Regions from separate parts of the Homo sapiens genome. Here regions 1 and 2 are each linked to region 3. The links come from fine-mapping of genetic effects on gene expression. A gene starts in region 3. Each other region holds a variant in brackets. All regions are shown on one strand. Distances are between the middles of the regions. Region 1 overlaps CEP89 (centrosomal protein 89). Region 2 overlaps CEP89 (centrosomal protein 89). Region 3 holds the start of SLC7A9 (solute carrier family 7 member 9).

Evidence for each region. PIP is the estimated chance that this variant, and not a neighbour inherited with it, causes the effect. A credible set is the group of variants that fine-mapping cannot tell apart.
Region 1: its variant is the best candidate, but not a certain one, in a credible set for the expression of SLC7A9 in breast (GTEx, PIP 0.63).
Region 2: its variant is the best candidate, but not a certain one, in a credible set for the expression of SLC7A9 in substantia nigra (GTEx, PIP 0.82).

What each region holds. Positions count from the first base shown.
Region 1 is chr19:32,913,039-32,919,616 of GRCh38, reverse strand. It overlaps CEP89 (centrosomal protein 89), which reads left to right. Exons shown (of 19, transcript NM_032816.5): 13 at 1,278-1,393; 14 at 4,100-4,280. Among named protein-coding and RNA genes, the nearest start is that of SLC7A9, 47 kb to the right of the region's middle. The variant T/C (reference allele first, on the strand shown) is at 3,412.
Region 2 is chr19:32,964,520-32,971,097 of GRCh38, reverse strand. CEP89 (centrosomal protein 89) reads left to right here. Exons shown (of 19, transcript NM_032816.5): 2 at 4,632-4,738. Among named protein-coding and RNA genes, the nearest start is that of CEP89, 4.1 kb to the left of the region's middle. The variant G/T (reference allele first, on the strand shown) is at 3,767.
Region 3 is chr19:32,866,284-32,872,861 of GRCh38, reverse strand. SLC7A9 (solute carrier family 7 member 9) reads left to right here and starts at 3,095. Exons shown (of 13, transcript NM_014270.5): 1 at 3,095-3,176; 2 at 4,217-4,414. The coding sequence starts at 4,328. RefSeq lists enhancers at 1,745-2,267, 2,268-2,790, 4,232-4,807.

The sequences.
Region 1 (6,578 bases), 47 kb before region 3:
GAGGCTAGCACAGACCAGTTTTGGGCGAGCCCCCTCCCAACAGCATGGCAGCCCACTCCCTGGGTGCTGGTAGCAGGCAAGAGGCACCCCCACAGTGCCCAGGAGCCAGTGCACACCACTGTTGGGGCCACACCATTGTTACAGCCTGACTCCTTTCATCTTGTCTCTCTCCTTCCTCCTCCTCACCTGTAGGGTTTCAAGTGGAAAATCGAGATTATTTACTGCTTTAGTAAATAAACTTAACGCCCAGTGTACTTTGGGTGGTCAGCATTTCACTAGATGATTTCTAAGGTCCCTTCAGCTCATTCTAATCAGAATTTGCGATCTTGAGGGCTGAGCTGGGCTGGGTTTTACATTGCACTGGAAGGAGAGGATTTGTTTGTGCTGAGAGGAAAGCTGGGGCAGATTCATACAGTTTTAAGAAACCATTTCGGCTGGACGCGGTGGCTCATGCCTATAATCCCAGCACTTTGGGAGGCCGAGGCGGGCAGATCACGGGGTCAGGAGATCGAGACCATCCTGGCTAACATGGTGAAACCCTGTTTCTACTAAAAATACAAAAAAATTAGCCAGGCGGCGTGGTGGGCATCTGTAGTCCCAGCTACTTGGGAGGCTGAGGCAGGAGAATGATGTGAACCCGGGAGGCAGAGCTTGCAGTGAGCCGAGATTGCGCCACTGCACTCCAGCCTGGGCAACAGAGCAAGTCTCTGTCTCAAAAAAAAAAAAAAAAAAGAAAAAGAAAAAGAAAAAAGAAAAAAGAAACCATTTCAAAGCCTGCTAACAGAGTCAGTTTTTTTTGTTTTTTTGTTTTGTTTTGTTTTGCAAATATGCTACTGATTACAAAGGAGTATTTTAAAATTGAAATGGGAACTTTCTAAATTCTTTAAACATGTTCCATATGGGCTTCAGAATAATATAGTGGGCAGCAGGACTAGAGGTTTATACAGATGAAACCTCATCAGCCATTTAGTGACTGTTCAAGCTGGGTATTGTGCACATAGGAGTCTCCTACTCTATCCTCTTTACTTCTGTACATGTTTGAAATTTTACATCTGAAAGCGTTTTCTGAAGCAGTCCGTAATTCAGACTTCACGGCTGTCCTTCCTCGCCTGACTGCAAATGGCAGGATTTGCTGCTGTGTTAATATGTTTAACATGAAGACATGACTTGATATTCATTACCTGTAATGCAGCCATTGCTTCCTTTTAGATTCCAGAGTGTTTCTGTAACCATTCAGCACCTGAATCACAGTATTTCATCTTGTAAATCAATTGCAGGCGTCAGCTTCAGACTCAAGCAAAACTGGTTTTAGAGGAAAACAAGTTGTTGCTGGAGCAGTTGGAGATTCAGCAAAGGAAAGCCAAGGACAGCCACCAGGAGCGCCTCCAAGAAGGTGAGGTCCTTCCAGTGAGGACTGGTCATGCATTGATGTCACTATTGTCATTTTACCCTTCTATCTCTCTCCTGCCGGGGGCCCCAGTTGAAAATGAGAGAAGTCATGTTTTGCATTTTTGACTGGAATGTGGCTGTTTATAACCTTTCCACGTCACTACCCTCAATGCATAGATTGCTTTTTCAGACTCCACAGTGTCTCTCATCATCCCATGGGTTTGTAAATCACTCGTAGGTAATAGTGCTAGACTCAGCAGAACTGGTTTTGGGGTAAAATAGTACCTTAGAAATGGGAATGATCACGTGAGGTAAACATCTGAAATAACACAGGGTCTCTTCCCAGATGTTTGTTGGATGCGTAAGCAGAACCATTCACTTTCTAAACAGTTCCCCTGTGTCCTTCCTTCCTTCAGAGCTGCGGGCCTGGGAGGCGACATCACTGCAGGTTAGATTTCCATCAAACACCTTCCGAGAGTGTCCCTCTTCCCATCTCTTCCCATGCATTCCCCCAACCCCTAGGAGCCTCATAGTCTGTGACAGTGCACAACTGTAAGGGGGCCAGGTTAAGAGTCATCGCTTCTGCTTTAAAACCGTAATTCATGAGTACAAAAGATAGTGGCATTTTTTCCCTTTGCTTTACTGATTTTTCTTTCTTAGTGAAGAATGGCATAGGCTGGGAAGCTGAAACACAAGCCATCTTGCATGAGGCTGTGGCACCCTGAGAAGCAGATGGAGGTTTTCCCTCTCCAGCTGCTTTTGGAATGGCAGCCCCTTCCACAGCATGGCAGGTCCATGAACAGCCCCTGCTGTTGCTGCAGTTGCAGGGCTAGCACTTCCTGTTTCTGAGAACCAGGTCGTGTTTAAAGATGAGAGCATCTCCCAGAGATGCACACAGGAGTTTCCTCCATGTGATTTCTCCTGAGACCTGCATGGCCCAGGAGTATTTGCCTTTACTCCGGCATTGTTAAGAGGAGAGGGGAAACAGAGTTGTGGAGCCTCTTATCTTTGTTTTCAGGGTTAGGGATGACATTAGTTTCCTATTTACTGAGCTTAATTTTCTTGAATATACCAGATCTGAACAGAAAGAGGATTTCTGGTCACATGGGGCAGGGAAAACCTTTTGACCTCTATGATTCAGTGAGTTGCCTGTGCTATTTTCCCATTGCCCAGAAACAGCGATTCACTTTGACCAATTAGATATTTTCTTTTTATTTTTTTTGAGACAGTCTCACTCTGTCGCCCAGACTGGAGTGCAGTGGCATGATCTAGGCTCACTGCAACTTCCGCCTGCCAGGTTCCAGCGATTCTCCTGCCTCAACCTCCCGGGTAGCTGGGATTACAGTCACGCGCCACCACTCCCGGCTAATTTTTGTATTTTCAGTAGGGGTGTTTCACCATGTTGGCCAGGCTGGTCTTGAACTCCTGACCTCAAGTGATCCACCCACCTTGGCCTCCCAAAATGCTAGGATTACAGGCGTGAGCCACTGTGCCCAGCCACCAATTAGATATTTTCATAGAGTAGAGAGATGTACAGTTTTATGCTATAATAAATACCTCTAAGTGCTAGTGTCGGCAGACGCTTGGGAATTATTACATGCAACCATGTAACACAGGATGAAAATATTTATGACTTACTTTAGATACAAGACATAAAATAAAAGTTTAATGACGAAAGGGAAGGAGAATAATAAATCCAGTTCTTAGTTTGGCCATGTTTGATGTCCTTAAAAATCTTGAAAATTTTGCAGCTTTAGGGACAACGTTATGACATATACTTACACACCTGGGTGTGATTTAAGGCTTTACTCTTAGGAAAGTCAGTTCCTTGAAGACTGGAATCATGTTTGGTAAAATATTATAGTGGATTTTATTTTAAAAAGTATATATTTAGTGAGTGCTTAATGTAGAGATAGTAATTTCTTTTGGCTTTTTTGGTTTTTGTTTTTGGAGACAAGGTCTCGCTGTGTCATCCAGGCTGGAGTGCAGTGGCCCAGTCACGGCTCACTATAGTCCTGAACT[T/C]CTGGGCTCAAGCAGTCCTCCTGCCTCAGCCTCCCGGATATCTGGGACCACAGACGCATGTCACCATGCCCTGCTAATTTTTAAATTTTTATGTAGAGATGGGGTCTCACTATGTTACCCAGGCTGGTCTCAAACTCCTGACCCCAAGCAATACTCCCCTCAGCCTCCCAAAGGGCTGGGGTTACAGGTATGAGTCACTGTGCCTAGTATGGACAGTAACTTCTAAGGACAAAGCCTTTGGTGTTAATTTATAACACTCCAAAATATCTTTTTTTTTTTTTTTTTTTCTGAGAGAGTCTCACTCTGTTGCCCAGGCTGAAGTGCAGTGGCGTGATCTCAGCTCACTGAGCCTTCTCGCCTCCTGGGTTCAAGTGATTCTCTGCCTCAGCCTCCTGAATAGCTGGGATTACAGGCGCCTGCCACCACGCCTGGCTAATTTTTGTATTTTTAGTAGAGACAGGGTTTCACCAACTTGGCCAGGCTGGTCTTGAACTCCTGACCTCGTGATCCACCCGCCTCAGCCTCCCAAAGTGCTGGGATTACAGGTGTGAGCCACCACGTCTGGCTCAAAAGATCTTTAAAAGGTCATTTTTATCAGCTGACTCTCATTAGTATTTCCTAATAGCCCATAATTGTGTTTTGTGAGGTCTTCTGTGCCAAGTTTTTATCTTCCTCTTTTGATTTTCAGTTTCTAAGCTGACTAAACAACTAATGCTCCTGGAGGCAAAAACCCACGGCCAGGAAAAGGAGCTGGCGGAGAACAGGGAACAGCTGGAGATTTTACGTGCCAAATGCCAAGAACTCAAAACACACTCGGATGGCAAAATCGCAGTGGAAGTTCATAAATCAATTGTGAATGAATTAAAAAGGTAAGGATTTAATGTTTTTTCTTTTTTTTTTTTTTTCTTTTTTCGAGACAGGGTCTTGCTATGTTGCTCAGGCTGGTCCCAAACTCCTGGGCTCAAGTGATCTGCCCATCCCAGCCTCTCAAAGTTTTGGGATTACAGGCATGAGCCACTGCGCCCAGCTGATTTAATGACTTTTTGAGTATAATGAGTCACTCTGCCTGTGGTTATAGGCAGAATGGAGAGAGGTTGCTCAGTTCTTTCTGGGTTTCTTCACCTATGGTCATGCACAGCATAGTGGCACAGGTGTCTGAAAGTGAGACTGGGACTTTTTTTTTTTGGGACGGACTCTCACTCTGTTGCGCAGGCTAGAATGCAGTGGTGCAGTCTCGGCACCTGTAACCTCCACCTCCTGGGTTCAAGTGATTCTCCTGCCTCAGCCTCCTGAGTATCTGGGATTACAGGGGCGGCTCACCACACCTGCCTAATTTTTGTATTTTTGGTAGAGACGGGGTTTCACCATGTTGACCAGGCTGGTCTCAAACTCCTGACCACAAGTGATCTGCCTGCCTTGACCTCCCAAAGTGCTGGAATTACAGGTGTAAGCCATCACGCCCAGCCTGACTTTTTTTTTCTTTTAATAACTTTGGTAATAAATGGTAAATTAAAGTAGAGCCTGGCTCTCCTTGAGGGCTGCAGTCTGCACTTTGGGTGTTTGTGATTTTTTTTTCATACTGTTTTGGCCTGTGTTAGTTTTAGAACCAAAGGCAATTTAAAATAGTGGAACTGGGCTGGGGGTAGTGCCTCATGCCTGTGATCCCAACACTTTGAGAGGCCAAGGCAGGCAGGTCACTTGAACCTGGAAATTTGAGACCAGCCTGGGCAACATGGCGAAACTGCATGTCTACCAAAAAAAATAATAATAATACAAAAACTAGCCAGGCGTGGTGGTATGCGCCTGTGGTCCCAGCTACATGGGAGATCGAGGCTGCAGTGAGCTGAGATCACGCCACTGTACTCCAGCCTGGGCAACAGAGTAAGACCCTGTCTCCTATCTCAAAAAATGATAAATAAATAAAATAGTAAAACTGGAAACCTAGATATCCAGTAATAAGGAATTAGTTAAATGAAAGGATATATCCTTGAAATGGAAGGAAATGCAGTCATTAAATATGATGTGACACAAGATCCTTTTTGACATAGGAAAATAGCCACCATATGTCTGTTTTTTTACAATGTTGCTCAGGCTGGTCTGGTCTCAAACTCCTGGACTCAAGCAGTTCTCCTACTACCTCAGCCCCACAAGTAGCTGGGACTACAGGGGCGTGCCTGCCTGGCCACAATATATTTTAAGTAATGAGTTTAGGTTTTAAAACAGCACATAGAAAATGATTACAATTTTATTTTTTAAGACGTGTGTGTGGCCGGGCACGGTGGCTCACACTTGTAATCCCAGCACTTTGGGAGGCCGAGGCGGGTGGTTCAGCTGAGGAGGGGAGTTTGAGACCAGCCTGGCCAACCTGGTGAAACCCTGTCTCTACTGAAAGTATAAAAATTAGCCAGGCATGGTGGCAGGCACCTGTAATCCCAGCTACTCGGGAGGCTGAGGCAGGAGAATTGCTTGAACCTGGGAGGCGGAGGTTGCAGTGAGCTGAAATTGCAATACTGCACTCCAGCCTGGGGGACAAGAGCGAGACTTTGTCTCAAAAAAAAAAAAAAAAGTGTGTGTGTATGTGTGTGTGTAACCAACCATAACAGTTTGCCTGGGACTGAGGGGTTTCCCAGGATGTGGGACTTATAGTGCTAAAATTGGGAATGTCCTAGGCAAAGTGAAATGAGTTGATCATTCTAGTATGTATGTATAAATGTATGTGTTTGTATAATTACATGTGTATGTGCGTGTATATATATACCTATGTATGGTATGTATGTAATTGGTAATTGGCCAATTGGTAATAGTCCGGGTAGGAGGATTGCTTGAGCCTAGGAGTTTGAGATCAGCCTGGGCAACATTGTGAAACAACAACAACAACAACAACAACAACAACAAAAAAATATATATATATATATATGGTGGCTATTTTCTCATGTCAAAAAGAATCTTGTATGTGTGTGTATGTAAGAGAGAGAGATATGGTATATATACATATGGTATATATGATAATTATGTATAGGAAACATACATAATTAATATGTGTAACTAATATATGTATAATTATATAATATTTTGTATAATTATATATGAATATTTTATATATTTATATTTTTTATTATTATATATTTATATATTCTATTTTTTAAATTTTTTTTAATTTTTTTTGA
Region 2 (6,578 bases), 98 kb before region 3:
CGCCCTTCCCCTAGGTCCATTCTCCACGTAGCAGCCAAGGGGATTCTTATATTTATTTATTATTTAATTTAGTTTTAGAGACAGGGTCTTGTCCTGATGCCCAGGCTGGAGTACAGTGGCATGATCATAGCTCACTGTGGCTTCAACCTCTTGGGTTCAAGTGATCCTCCTGCCTCAGGCTCCTGAGTAGCTGGGACTACAGGTGTGCACCACCACACCTAGGTATTTTTTATTTATTTTATTTTTTGCCTCACACTCTGCCAAGTCTCAATGCCTGGCTAATTTTAAAAATTATTTTGTAGAGGCCACGTGAGGTGGCTCTCACCTGTAATCCAGCACTTTGGGAGGCTGAGGCAGGCGGATCATTTGAGGTCAGGAGTTCAAGATTAGCCTGGCCAACATGGTGAAAACCCATCTCTACTAAAAATACAAAAATTAGCGGGCGTGGTGGTGGGCACCTGTAATCCCAGCTACACGGGAGGTTGAGGTGGGATAATCGCTTAAACCCGAGAGGCAGAGGTTGCAGTGAGCCAAGATTGTGCCACTGCACTCCAGCCTGGGCGACAAAGCTAGACTCTGCCTCAAAAAAACATAATTTTTTTTTTTTGGTAGAGATGGGGTCTGGGTATGCTGCCCAGGCTGGTCTTAAACCTTGGCTCAAGCAATCCTCTCACCTTGGCCTCCAGAGTGTTGGGATTACAGGTGTGAGCCACTGCATCTGGCTTGAGTTTTTATTTAAAGCCCCAAACATTAATGAGTCCCTGCTGTGTGCTGATACCCACAACTGACAGCTTATGGCCACACGGTCTGTAGGATAGACAAGCCCATAAATAATTCTGTACACAATGGTAAAACAAGAACTGCTGTTGATGTGTGTACCAGAAGGGCAGTGACGTCAGCCTGGAGAGTTGGCCTGGGCCTGGCAGGGAGTAAGGAAAGAATTCTGGGTGCAGAAGACAGCAAATACCAAGGCCTAAAAAAGAATGAATTATTTGCTGTTTGGGAAATGGAAGCCCACGCTGAGTGCTGAAGCACAGGGACTCTGCGCAGGAAGAGGAGGGGAAGCAAGAAATGAATTTGGGTCCTTGTGATGGCAGTGGCTGCTGCCATCACGCTGTGTGGCTAGGGCTGCACACTTCATGGAGCCGGTGGAAGCCCCGTCCCTCATGAGTTGGGACTGGAGCCGCAAACCGCTGCTGCAGACCCAGGCCTTCTGCTCTATGGAGCAGGCAGGAGCCCCACCCTCTTGGGCAGGGCTACAGCCACCCAAACTGCAGCTGTGGATCCGAGCCTCTCTGCTCCTGGGGGAGCCGGGAACAGGCAGAATTTGCCCTTCCAGATGCAGCTGCAGCCGCGCAGGCAGGAGCCAGGGACAAGTGGGAGCCCTGCCTCTTCCAAGTTGGCGGGGTGGGAGCTCCCAGGTGCAGCTGTGGCTGCCCCCCCAGGCACAGGACGAGGGCATCTCTGTAGCCTGCACCATCGGCCATCCCAGGAAGGACAGCCCCCTTCACCCTCCATCCCTGCAGGCTCAGGGGTGTCTGCTTCCACTGCCTGGCCTCTCTCCACTCCAGCAACTGCTCTGATCTTGGAGGGGAGTCGGAGCCAAGACCTGCAGCCATGAATGGCAGCAGGAGGAAGGGGGTGGGGTCCCCAGTAAGGCCCCACCCTCAGGCCAGGGAGGGCCTGAATTCTGGGGGCTGGGCTGCCAGTCCCTCTGACCAGAGTGGAAACTCGTGGAGCCTTTTCTGGGCCTGCCAATGGCCCAATCAGCACACACTTCTTCCCCGCTGAGGTCCATAAAAACCCTGGGCTCAGCCAGAGCAGCGCAGAGAATAGCCAGAGGATGAAGATGGTAGAGACGAGGGGACAGGATGACCAGCTGCAGAGAGCAGTACCCTCTCTGCTGATAGCTGGAGACGGTGGGGTGACCAGCTACAGAGAGGAGTACCTTCTCCGCTGAAAGCTACAGAGACCACCTGCCAGCAGAGAGGAGCTACACTCTGCTGCGAGCTTCAGAGACCTGCAGAGACATTGGAATGACTTGCCTGCGGAGAGGAGCCACTCTCTCCAGGGCCTCCTCTCTGTTGAGAGCTGAATGGTTGAGCTCATGGGACAATCTGTCTCCAGAGAGGAGCTACCCACTCCTCTGAGCTCTTCTAACACTAAATAAAACTCCTCTTCACCCTTCACTTGTCTGTGTACCTCATTCTTCCTGGATGCAGGACAAGAACTCAGGCAAAGGCACTGTGGCCACAGAGGTTCCGGCCAGAAAAATCGACACCCCAAAAATCCCATAACACTTGGTAGGAACCAACCTATATCAGCCTGATAAGCCATGCTGGACATTTGCCTGCCGTTGAGAGAGTGGTGCTGCCCATGAGGGTTTTTATGCCCAGTAGAGACAGGATTGATGAGGGGACCATAGTTAGGAATGATTGTGATGGTATGAGGGGGGATTCACTCTTTAAAAAAAAAAAATCTTATGCAGCCTTTTTGGAGGACCTGCTGGACGCCAGCCCTTGGGATTCAAAGGTTAAGAAAACCTTTTCTGGCCAGGTGCAGTGGTTCACACATGTAATCCCAGTATTTTGGGAGGCCAAGGCAGGCGGATTGCCTGAGGTCAGGAGTTTGAGACCACCCTGGCCAACATGGTAAAACCCCATCTCTACCAAAATACAAAAATTAGCTAGGCATGTTGGCACATGACTGTGGTCCTAGCTACTTGGGAGGCTGAGGCATGAGAATAGCTTGAACCCAGGAGGTGGAGGTTGCAGTGAGCCAAGATCGTGCCACCGCACTCCAGCCTGGGTGACAGACAAGACTGTCTCCAAAACAAGCAAACAAACAAAAACCATTTCTTGTCGTGTAGCAGGTGGTGGAGGGGGGCAGGGTGGAAACATGGAAACTGTGGAATCACTTGACAAATACAGGGTGGCAGGTGCCACACAGAGGTAAACAGAGTGGGGGTATTGGGTAGAGACTGCTTGGAGCTTCTGCTCCTGTGGGTGGCTGTGCAAGTCGGTGGTGGGGGCTGTAGGAGATGACTGGAAGGTGTGCCCATCCCTCACTCCTGAAAGATGCCCCCACTCTGTGCCACCCTTCCCAGCCTTGTGTCTCGTGCTGACCACTACCTAACATTCCTGGGGCCACTGTCAGTGGGTGCTCCTCACTAGGCCTTGGGATTTCCTCCATCTGCTCTGGAAGCCCTTCCCATGGGAATTGTCCCCACCATGCCCCCAAGCCCCACCCTCGAAGATGCCTCTAGTCTAGCAAAACGGAGAATCGTGCTTATGATTTCCGAGCACTGCAACCAATGTCTTGCTCCATTCCTTTGTTCATGCCGTTCCCTCTTCCTAGAATGCTGTTCCGTCACATTTCCAAATGTGGGACCAGTGGGCATCTCTGAAAGCCCAGTCTAAACGCCTGTGTGATTTTCTCGAAGGAAAGCATTTGAAATTCCCAGGCTGGCCCCAGACCTGGAGGAATCTTCCCTCCCTGCCCACCCCAGCACTTTGTGCTAATTACTGGCTTCAAATAGAAAACAATAGTGTTTTTATCCCACATCTCATTGATGCTCTTTTTTTTTTTTTTCATTTTTAGTGAGAGCCTTTCTCCCGGCTCATTCCATAATTCTATGTTCTGTAATAATTATTTGGGTGTTTTTCCTCCCTTCTCACCACTTTGGGGATGAAGACAAGGTTTCTTCATTGCTGTCATGGTGTTTTGCCTCTAGTAGGTGTGAATGAATGGCTCGTGCCAAGAAAAT[G/T]ATTGGACTAGACCCAGAAACGTCTCAGAGACTCCCAGTTACAGTTACCTAAAGCGGAGCTCTCTGACTTTCATTGTGTATAGGAGCTAGTTTTCATTACTCTCGTCTTGGAGATAAGCCACCTAAAAGCTTATATTAAGCCCCTATGAGGTGTGAGGCAATGTGCTCAATGCTAGAGTTCCAGGATTGATAAAGATAAGAGAGTGGGCCAGGTGCAGCACTCGCACCTATAATCCCAACACTTTGGGAAGCTGAGGTGGGAGGATCACTTGAAGCTAGAAGTTCGAGACCAGTCTGGGCAATGTAGTGAGATCCTGTCTCTACAAAAAAATACAAAAATTACCTAGGCATGGTGGTGAACATCTGTAGTCCCGTCTACTCGTGTGGCTGAAGCGGGAGTTTGAGGCTGCGGTGAGCTATGATCGTACCACTGCACTCCACTCTGGGCAACAGAGCAAGACCCCATCTCAAAAACAAAACAAAGCGAAAAACAATAAGGATATCACTTGCTTCTCAGGAAGTCGCCCTGCTCTGCAGGGGGAGCCACATGAGACATCACTGGGGGGAGTGCTGTGGGACACATGGAAGAGCTAGAGGGTGACTCTTGGGGACAGCCAGGGAAGCTCTGAGGAGGGAAGGACAAGAGGGCCACACAATGAGCAGCTATCATGATGCTCCTTGGCTGTGTGCACTTGTCTGGCCTGATGGGGACTGGGGATGGCAGGGGAGGAGTGGGCTTCTGATGGGTTTGGATCCATGGGTGGCCAGTGCAGGTGTCCCCTTGCAGGCCCAGGGAGAGTGGTGACAAGACTCAGGTGATCCAGTGACCCAACCCAGTGACTTCTGTTGGATTTCATTTGTGCAGAAACACATCATCCATGGCCTTTTACCTGCAGCCAGCGTTGCTCCGAAGGCAGCTGTGCCACGCACACCTCCTCCCCGCAGCCCCAACCCATCTCCAGAGAGACCAAGGTGAGTATCAGATGAGCAGGCACTGAGGTCACCCCTGTGCTCAGCCTCCAAGTACTGGATCCTGGAACTGCTCAAACTGCCCAGAAAAGTATAAGTAGGGTGGTTAGAATCATGTCCTTCAAAATGTTTACCACGATTCCATAATGATGCAATTAATATGGTGTCTCTGAGGATAATGGACTGACTTGAGGTCTCTCCTTTTCAGGTGCATGAACTTCTCACATTTCATGATTGAATGCAATGAGTATTTAAAAAAAAATGTAAAGCATTAAAGCCCAAGTATTCAGGTTAACAGGGAATTTTGAATTATACACATAATTTTCTTTCTTTTTTTTTTCCTTCGAAACGGAGTCTTGTTCTGTTGCCCAGGCTGGAGTGCAGTGGCGCAATCTTGGCTCACTGCAGCCTCCACCTCCCAGGTTCAAGCAATTCTCCTGCCTCAGCCTCCGGAGTAGCTGGGATTACAGGCACATGCCACCACGCCTAGCTAATTTTTGTATTTTTAGTAGAGATGGGGCTTCACCATGTTGGCCAGACTGGTCTCAAACTCCTGACCTCTTTCTTAATCCGCCTGCCTTGGCCTCTGAAAGTGCTGGGATTACAGGCATCAACCTCCGCACCCAGCCCATTTTCTTTTTTTTTTTTAATTATTAATTTTTTTTTCAAGGCAAGATCTTGCTCTGTTGCCCAGGCTGGAGTGCAGTGGTGCAATCATGGCTCACTGCAGCCTCCACCTCCCAGGCTCAATCAGTTCTCCCATCTCAGCCCGCCGGGTAGCTGGGACTACAGGCATGTACCACCATGCCCAACTAATTTTTCTATTTTTTATAGAGATAGGGTTTTGCCATGTTTCCCAGGCTGAAATCCTGGGCTCAAGCAATCCACCTGCCTCTGCCTCCCAAAGTGCCTGGGATTACAGACGTGAGCCACTGTGCCTGGCCAAAACAAAAAGTTTTTTCGAGATATGGTCTCATTCTGTTGCCCAGGCTGGAGTGCATTGGTGCGAACGTGACTCACTGCAGCCTCAACCCCCTAGCATCAAGCGATCCTCCTGTCTCAGCGTCCTGAGTAGCTGGGACTACAGGTACACACCACCATGCCTGGCTAATTTTTTAAATTTTCTGCAGAGATGGAGGTCTCACTATGTTGCCCAAGTTGGTCTTGAACTCCTAGGGTAAACTGATCCTGGGAGGCTGAGGCAGGAGAATTGCTTGTGCCCAGGAGTTTAAGATCAGCCTGGGCAACATAGCAAATCCTTATCTATAGCAAAAATCAAAAGAAAATAAATTATCTGAGCATGATGGTGCATGTCTGCAATCCCAGATACTCGGGAGGCTAAGGCTGGAAGATCACTTGAGCCCAAGAGGAAAAGGCTGCGGTGAGCTATGATCATGTCACTGCACTGCAGCCTGAGCAACAGTGAGGCTGTTGTGAGTGAGGCCCTGCCTCTAAAAAAGTTTATTTTAAAAAGATAATTAATAGGGTAGCTCCTGAAAAAGAAAAAAAGATAATAAATATATCTATCATTCTGACAAGGGTCCTCATGCTCCTTTGTAATTCCTTCCCCCTGCCCCTCTCTGCCACCTTTCATGCTCCTGTTCATCCCCAGGCAACCTCTCATCTCCTTTCTCACACTATGGATTAGCTTGTATTTTCTAGAATTTTATATAAGTGGAGTTACATAAAATACACTGCCTTCCTTCACTCAGCATGATTATTCTGATTAACGCGTGTTCCGAAAGTCAATAATTCATCCTTTTCCTTACTGAGTAGTATTTCATTATATGAATATGCCACAGTTTGTTTATCCATTCTCCTGTTGATGGATATTTAGTTTGTT
Region 3 (6,578 bases):
AATATGACTGTAGGAGACTAGATATATATCACCCCAAATTATACTTCTTTGGAATATTTTGAGCTGGTTATTCTGAGAAACTGCAGACACAACAGGTGTAGCTCTGAAAAGCTGCCCTTTGCAAAAGAAATGTATGTCATGAAGGAAATCTACATTAGTACAAGTATCTGTACCAGGAAGAGACAACTTTTATTACCTGAGAGACTTATATCTGCATAACAAGACGACCTTTATTCGCCATGCATTTCCTCCCCTCACCATCCCATTACTAGTCCCTACCTGCCCCAGAAGCCCCAAGCCCCTAATCCTTATATAGCTCAGGATGCTATATAGGGTTTAGTCATCTGGCCCTTCTTCAAGTCTCTTGTTTTGTGGGACTCAGTTGCATATACACATAATTAAAACAGTTTTCCTCCCATTAGTCTCAATTCGAAGCCCAACCAAAGAACCCAAAAGGGTGGAGAGAAGCATTTTACCCTCCCCAACTGAAATCAAATGTGCACCAAATATAAGATAAAATGTAGATGGTGTGAAGATCTTCACACTGCAAGCATTTTTGCAATCGGAAGGGAAAAAGCACGGGTTGAAAATGAAGGTCAAGAGTCTTTAGCAGAAACTTAAGAAATAGAGTGGTTGGGCGGGTGTGGTGGCTCACACCTGTAATCCCAGCACTTTGGGAGGCTGAAGCGGGTGGATTACTTGAGGTCAGGAGTTCAAGATCAGCCTGGCCAACATGATGAAACCCTGTCTCTACTAAAAATACAAAAATTAGCCGGGTATATTGTCACACATGTAGTACCAGCTACTCGGGAGGCTGAGGGAGGAGAATCGCTTGAACCTGGGAGGCGGAGGTTGCAGTGAGCTGAGATCATGACACTGCACTCCAGCCTGGGTGACACAGCAAGTCTCAAAAATAAATAAATAAAATGGTAAAAATGACAGTAGGATTTGCGCTTTGGGAGGCCGAGGCAGGTGGATCACTTGAGGTCAGGAGTTCAAGACCAACCTGGCCAACATGGTGAAACCCCATCTCTACTAAAAATACAAAAATTAGCCAGGCATGGTGGTGGATGCCTGTAATCCCAGCTACTCAGGAGGCTGAGACAGGAGAATCACTTGAACCCAGGAGGCAGAGGTTGCAGTGAGCTGAGATCGTGCCACTGCACTCCAGCCTGGGCGACAGAGTGAGGCTCCATCTAAAAAAAAAAAAATTGACAGCAGGGAGGTGAAACTTCAGTCACATGGCAGAAGCACTGGATACACAATGAACCAATGGTCTTCAAGAACTGAGGAAAATTTTGCTTTTTAAATGAAATCCGTATTATTTTCCATGAGGAAGAGCTTATGAGAATTACTTGAATACTTTCTGTGTATTCAAGGGAGGGAGAGGGTGGGACTGCGGTGAAAAACACAACTTTAAGAAACAGGCTTAAGAAATGCTCACCGTGGACCCAAAATGAACTGAAGTGGAGGTTTCTGACTTAACAAAGGACCCTCACATCCCGATGTTCCAGACTCGGCACTTGGAAGAGGCCCAGGAAGACCAGAGGGCTGGTCCCGGACATTCATGGAACATGCAAGTTCAGTGTGTTCCGTGAGGAGGCGCCTGTTGCTCGCCCTGCGTCGCAGGTTCAGACCCTGATCCTGGCAGTGCTGCCTGAGCCCATGTGGGTAGTGGGTGAGGTTGCAGGGCTGTCTGGCCCCAGCGGGGGACCACTGCCCCACCCTGATGTCCTCACGTGGTCTCCTGTCAGCCTGCCAGGAGCACTTTTGACCCAGGGGGTATTCTGTGGTGTTTTGCAAACATGGATGTGCCAGGTACTATGATGAGTGCTGCAACATTAGGAGGAGTGACCCCAGCAAGCCGGTGGGCAGGTTCTGTCTAGGGTGGCAGGACCTGCCACTAGCCTCTCTGCTCAGGGCTCTGGGCATGGCAGGCAGGTAAACAGGTGGGCCCTCCCAAGATGGGAGGTGACGAACTTCTAAATCAGGACCGTGCCTCTGGGACAACAAGGGTCCCTGTGCTCTGCAGACGGCTTTCAGAGAAACCTGTGCCTCTCTCAGGTCTGCTTGCCCCAAACTGCTCCCAAACTGACCCCCAGAGACTGGCCCAGCTCCTTCCATCCCTGACCTTTGCTTCCATCTGATATCTGGGATGCAGTTAAGTTTGGCCCAAGGCAAAGCTACCAGAGTTTTGGCTGAAGGTAACAGCTACGATGCTTCAGATGCAGTGCTTATGCTGTGCCAGGCTGTCTCATAAGGTCTCATAAGGTGCTTCCTTCCCTATCTGAAAGGGCTTCGTGCTGACCCCTGAGGCTGCCGCCTGAGCCTAGGTCCAATCGCAGTGCGGGAGAACCTCTGCTCCCTCCCAGAGAGATCCAGACCCTGGCAGCCCTGGATGCGGACCGGAGCTTCCTGGCCTTGTGTTGCCTGTCCCCCTCCGTTTCCCCGAAGGGGAAGGTTTTGTGTCCCTTGTGATGAGCCAGGACATGGCTACGTGAACAGCACCACAGCCAAACCTGATGGGCATTTGGCCGCAGCTGCAGGGAGGACACGAGGCCCTGCATTGCCTCAGGCCTGCTTGTGATTCCAAGTGGTGAAGCCCCATCACTGGTAAAGAGGAGTGGGACGGGCTCAGCCGCTCTCACCTGCTCAGCCAGAGGCAGGCCCTTGGCTTGGGGGAAATTCCTGGGCGGGGAGGAAACTGACCAACAGCTGAGTTACGCACACACAGCGGTTCCTGTTTGAGCTGCCTGACTTGGGTTTTAAATATAGCCTATTAAGGCAATTAGCGAATTGGTTCCAAAGTTTATCTCCTCTGATTCCCAAAGATAAAAGAAGGCATAATTTATTTTATCTTTAGGTAAAAAGTGTAGACGATTTGGGACCATCTGGTTTTAAAAAAATAATCTGACCTAGACACAAATGAACAAAACAAAAACGGTTTTGGAGAGAAATTGGTGTTCCTGACCCTCCCCTTTTTTGTGTGGCGTATCTAAGCTTCATTGCAAAAAAAAAAAAAAAGGTGTTTAATAATTACCCTTATTGACCTCTGTACCTTCTGGACTTCCTTTGCTCCTGGGCACAAGACATGGCCATTTCTAGGGTTGGACCGTGCAGGCACGGGCGGTCAGCTGGGCCGCAGCTCCTCCGGCTCTGCAGGGTCACGGAGGAAGGTAAGTAAGGTCAGTAGGTGATAGAAAGGCTCATGGCTCTCCTGGCCGGGGCCTGGACAGATAATTTATTTAGAGAGAGGGTACAGGAGTGCATGGTTTTCTCCTAGTTCAGTCTGGAACTGGGTTTCCTCGGCAATGTTTTCTTTCCTTTCATCACTCAATGAAAAAGTACCTGGCCAGGCGTGGTGGCTCACCCCTGAAATCCCAGCCCTTTGGGAGGCCGAGGTGGAAGGACTGCTTGAGGCCAGCCGGGGCAAATAGCAACACTCCCGTCTTTATAAAAAATATTGTAAAAATTTAAAAAGTACAAAGAAAAAGTACCTGTATTGTGGATCTGTGATGTATGGGAGTGCCTTTAATCTTGGGAAGGAATTATAAGACAGACACTCCTTACCTGGACTTGATTCTGATAAATACATTCCACAATATTTTCATTTTTTAATTTTTTATATATATATTTTTTGAAACAGAATCTCGCTCTGTGGCCCAGGCTGGAGTGCAGTGGCATGATCTTGGCTCACTGCAGCCTCTGCCTCCAGGGTTCAAGTGCTTCTCTTGCCTCAGCCTCCCGAGTAGCTGGGATTAACAGGCACCCACCACCACACCCAGCTAATTTTTTTTTTTTTTTTTTTGCATTTTTAGTAGAGACGGGGTTCGCCATGTTAGCCAGGCTGGTCTCAAACTCCTGGGCTCAAGTGATCCACCCACCTCGGCCTCCGAAAGTGCTGGGATTACAGACCTGAGCCACTGTGCCCAGCCCGGGATGTTGTTAAATATTTCTTTTTACTTTTGAAAAAAAATGAAGTTGACCATAGAGGTAGAATGACTTTCAAGGCACAGGCACGTGGGCCAGGAGGCTCCCGGGGCCTGTCTGGGAGAGAGCTAAGCAAGCAGCTGAGCTTTGGAGAGCAGCGGGGAGCTGTGTTCCCCTGCCTGGACAATGTTAATGACTGACTTTGACTCTGGGGCCCAGCGCATGAGCCCTGAGGGACTGGCAGCGGCCCCCACCTGCAGCAATAACCAACACTGTGCTTTTGCAGCCAGCTCCCCTAGTCCAGGCCGAGCTTGCACTTGCGTCTTGTCTGCTGCTGCTGAACCAAGATTTAGCTGTGCGCCCTCCTTGCAGTCTCCTGGAACCAGCAGGAGGAAACATGGGGGATACTGGCCTGAGAAAGCGGAGAGAGGATGAGAAGTCGATCCAGAGCCAAGAGCCTAAGACCACCAGTCTCCAAAAGGAGGTAAGGCGGTCTCTGGTGGGGCAGGCCCTTTGCAGGTTAGGCAAGGGCGTCTGAACGAGGGGCGCAGGCAGTGAAATCCGGGCCGATCCCTAGTGACACGGCAGAAGATGTACTCTTTGATTTGTGAAGTACATCTTTAAAGGGATAATCTCTGGACTTACTTCTCTTTCCCTCTCGCCAGGGAATTCTGCATCTTCTTTTTTTTTTTTTTTTTTTTGAGATGGAGTGTTGCTCTGTCACCCAGGCTAGAGTGCAGTGCTGCCATCTCGGCTCAATGCAACCTTCACCTCCCCGGTTCAAGGGATTCTTCTGACTCAGCCTCCCGAGTAGCTGGGATTACAAGCACCCGCCACCATACCCGGCTAATTTTTGTATTTTTAGTAGAGACAGGGTTTCACCATGTTGGCCAGGCTGGTCTCAGACTCTTGGCCTCAGGTGATCCTCCCAAAGTGCTGGGATTACAGGCGTGTGCCACTGCACTCGGCTGCATATTCTTTTTTTTTTTTTTTTTTTTTTTTGAGACAGAGTCTTGCTCTGTCACCCAGGCTGGAGTGCAGTGGTATGATCTCAGCTCACTGCAACCTCCGCTTCCTGGGTTCAAGCAGCTCCTGAGTAGCTGGGACTACAGGCATGTGCCACTACGCCTGGCTAATTTTTGTATTTTCAGTAGAGACGAGGTTTCACCATATTGGCCAGGCTGGTCTCCAATTCCTGGCCTCAAGTGATCCGCCCACCTCGGCCTCCCAAAGTGTTGGGATTACAGGCATGAGCCAACTTGCCCGGCCCGCATATTATTTTAAGTTCATAAATAGGTGCTTTTGTGTGTTGAGCAAGTGTCTAGACGGGCCAGTATTTTTGTTCAAACTAATGGCCTTTCCAGGAATGGTCAGAAAGGGCGTTCTTTTTAAAAATTTTTAAAAAAATTTTTTTAGAGTCAGGGTCTTACTCTGTCACCCAGGCTGGAGTGCAGTGGTGCAATCATAGCTCACTGCAGCGTCAACCTCCTGGACTCAAGCAATCCTCCTGCCTCAGCCTCCTGAGTAGCTGGGACTACAGGAGCACACCACCATGCTCTGCCAAATTTTTAACTTTTCAAAAAAATTCTTTCTGTAGAGTCAGTATCTTGCTGTGTTGCCCAGGCTGGTCTGGAACTCCCGGGCTCAAGCGATCCTCCCACCTCAGGCTCCCAAAGTGCTGGGATTATAGGCGTGAGTCGCTGTGCCCAGCCAGAGAGGGCGTTCTGATGGTTGAGTCCCCTCTAAATGCCTGTCCTCCTTATATCTGAATGGCTGTAGTGATGGGAAGTACTGCCCCCAGCATAGCCTGTTCTGTCTTAGAGGCATCTACCAGGGACAGCTGCTCTGAGTTGGGCTGCAGTGAGCAGCTGGGGCTGGCCCTGGGCCTGCAGGGAAAGGGAGCTTGGGGCTGGGGGGAAGGCAGAAAGGAGCTCAACACAGCACACTGCGCCAGTCCCAGGCAGTTGGGAGCAGCAGGTGCTGAGCATGGAGGCGCAGGGAGGGCTTCAGGCTCCTAGGATGAGGAAAGGCAGCTCCAGGTGAGCTCAGGATGGCTTCCGCTTCCAGGGCAGAGGTGTGGGCAGGGCCTCCGAGAGCTCCCATGCCTGGCAGCAGAGGGGATGGAGGAGGGACGGCACCAAGGCTTTAGGGCTTGACCGGAGGGCTGGCAATGGCCTGAATGGCTTGGCCTGGGACCCCCAGGAGGTAGACGATGGGCTGCAGCACTTTCCCTCTCTGCCAGTCTCAGGCCTGATCTCAGGAAGGGCCTCTTAGAACCCTGGTGGGCCCCAGTGGCCACAGAGCACAGCTGAGAAATCCCCAAGATGTGTCTTCTGAGCTGGGGACAGGTGTGGCGGCACACGCCTGTAACCTTAGCACTTTGGGAGGCTGAGGTGGGAGGATCCCTTGAGCCCAGGAGATCGAGGCTGCAGTGAGTCATGATCGCGCCATTGCACTCCAAGCCTGGGTGACAGAGCGAGACCCTGACTCTAAAAACCAAAAATCTGAGCTGGGTCTACTCCTCAGTCAGGCAGCTTCAGGGCGAATGCAGACCTCACCCACATCAGAACCCAGGCAGTCCCTCAGCAGGAGGGAGGATTCTGGAGCCAAACTGCCAGTCCTGGGCAGGGCTGAGATGAGGAGGAGAG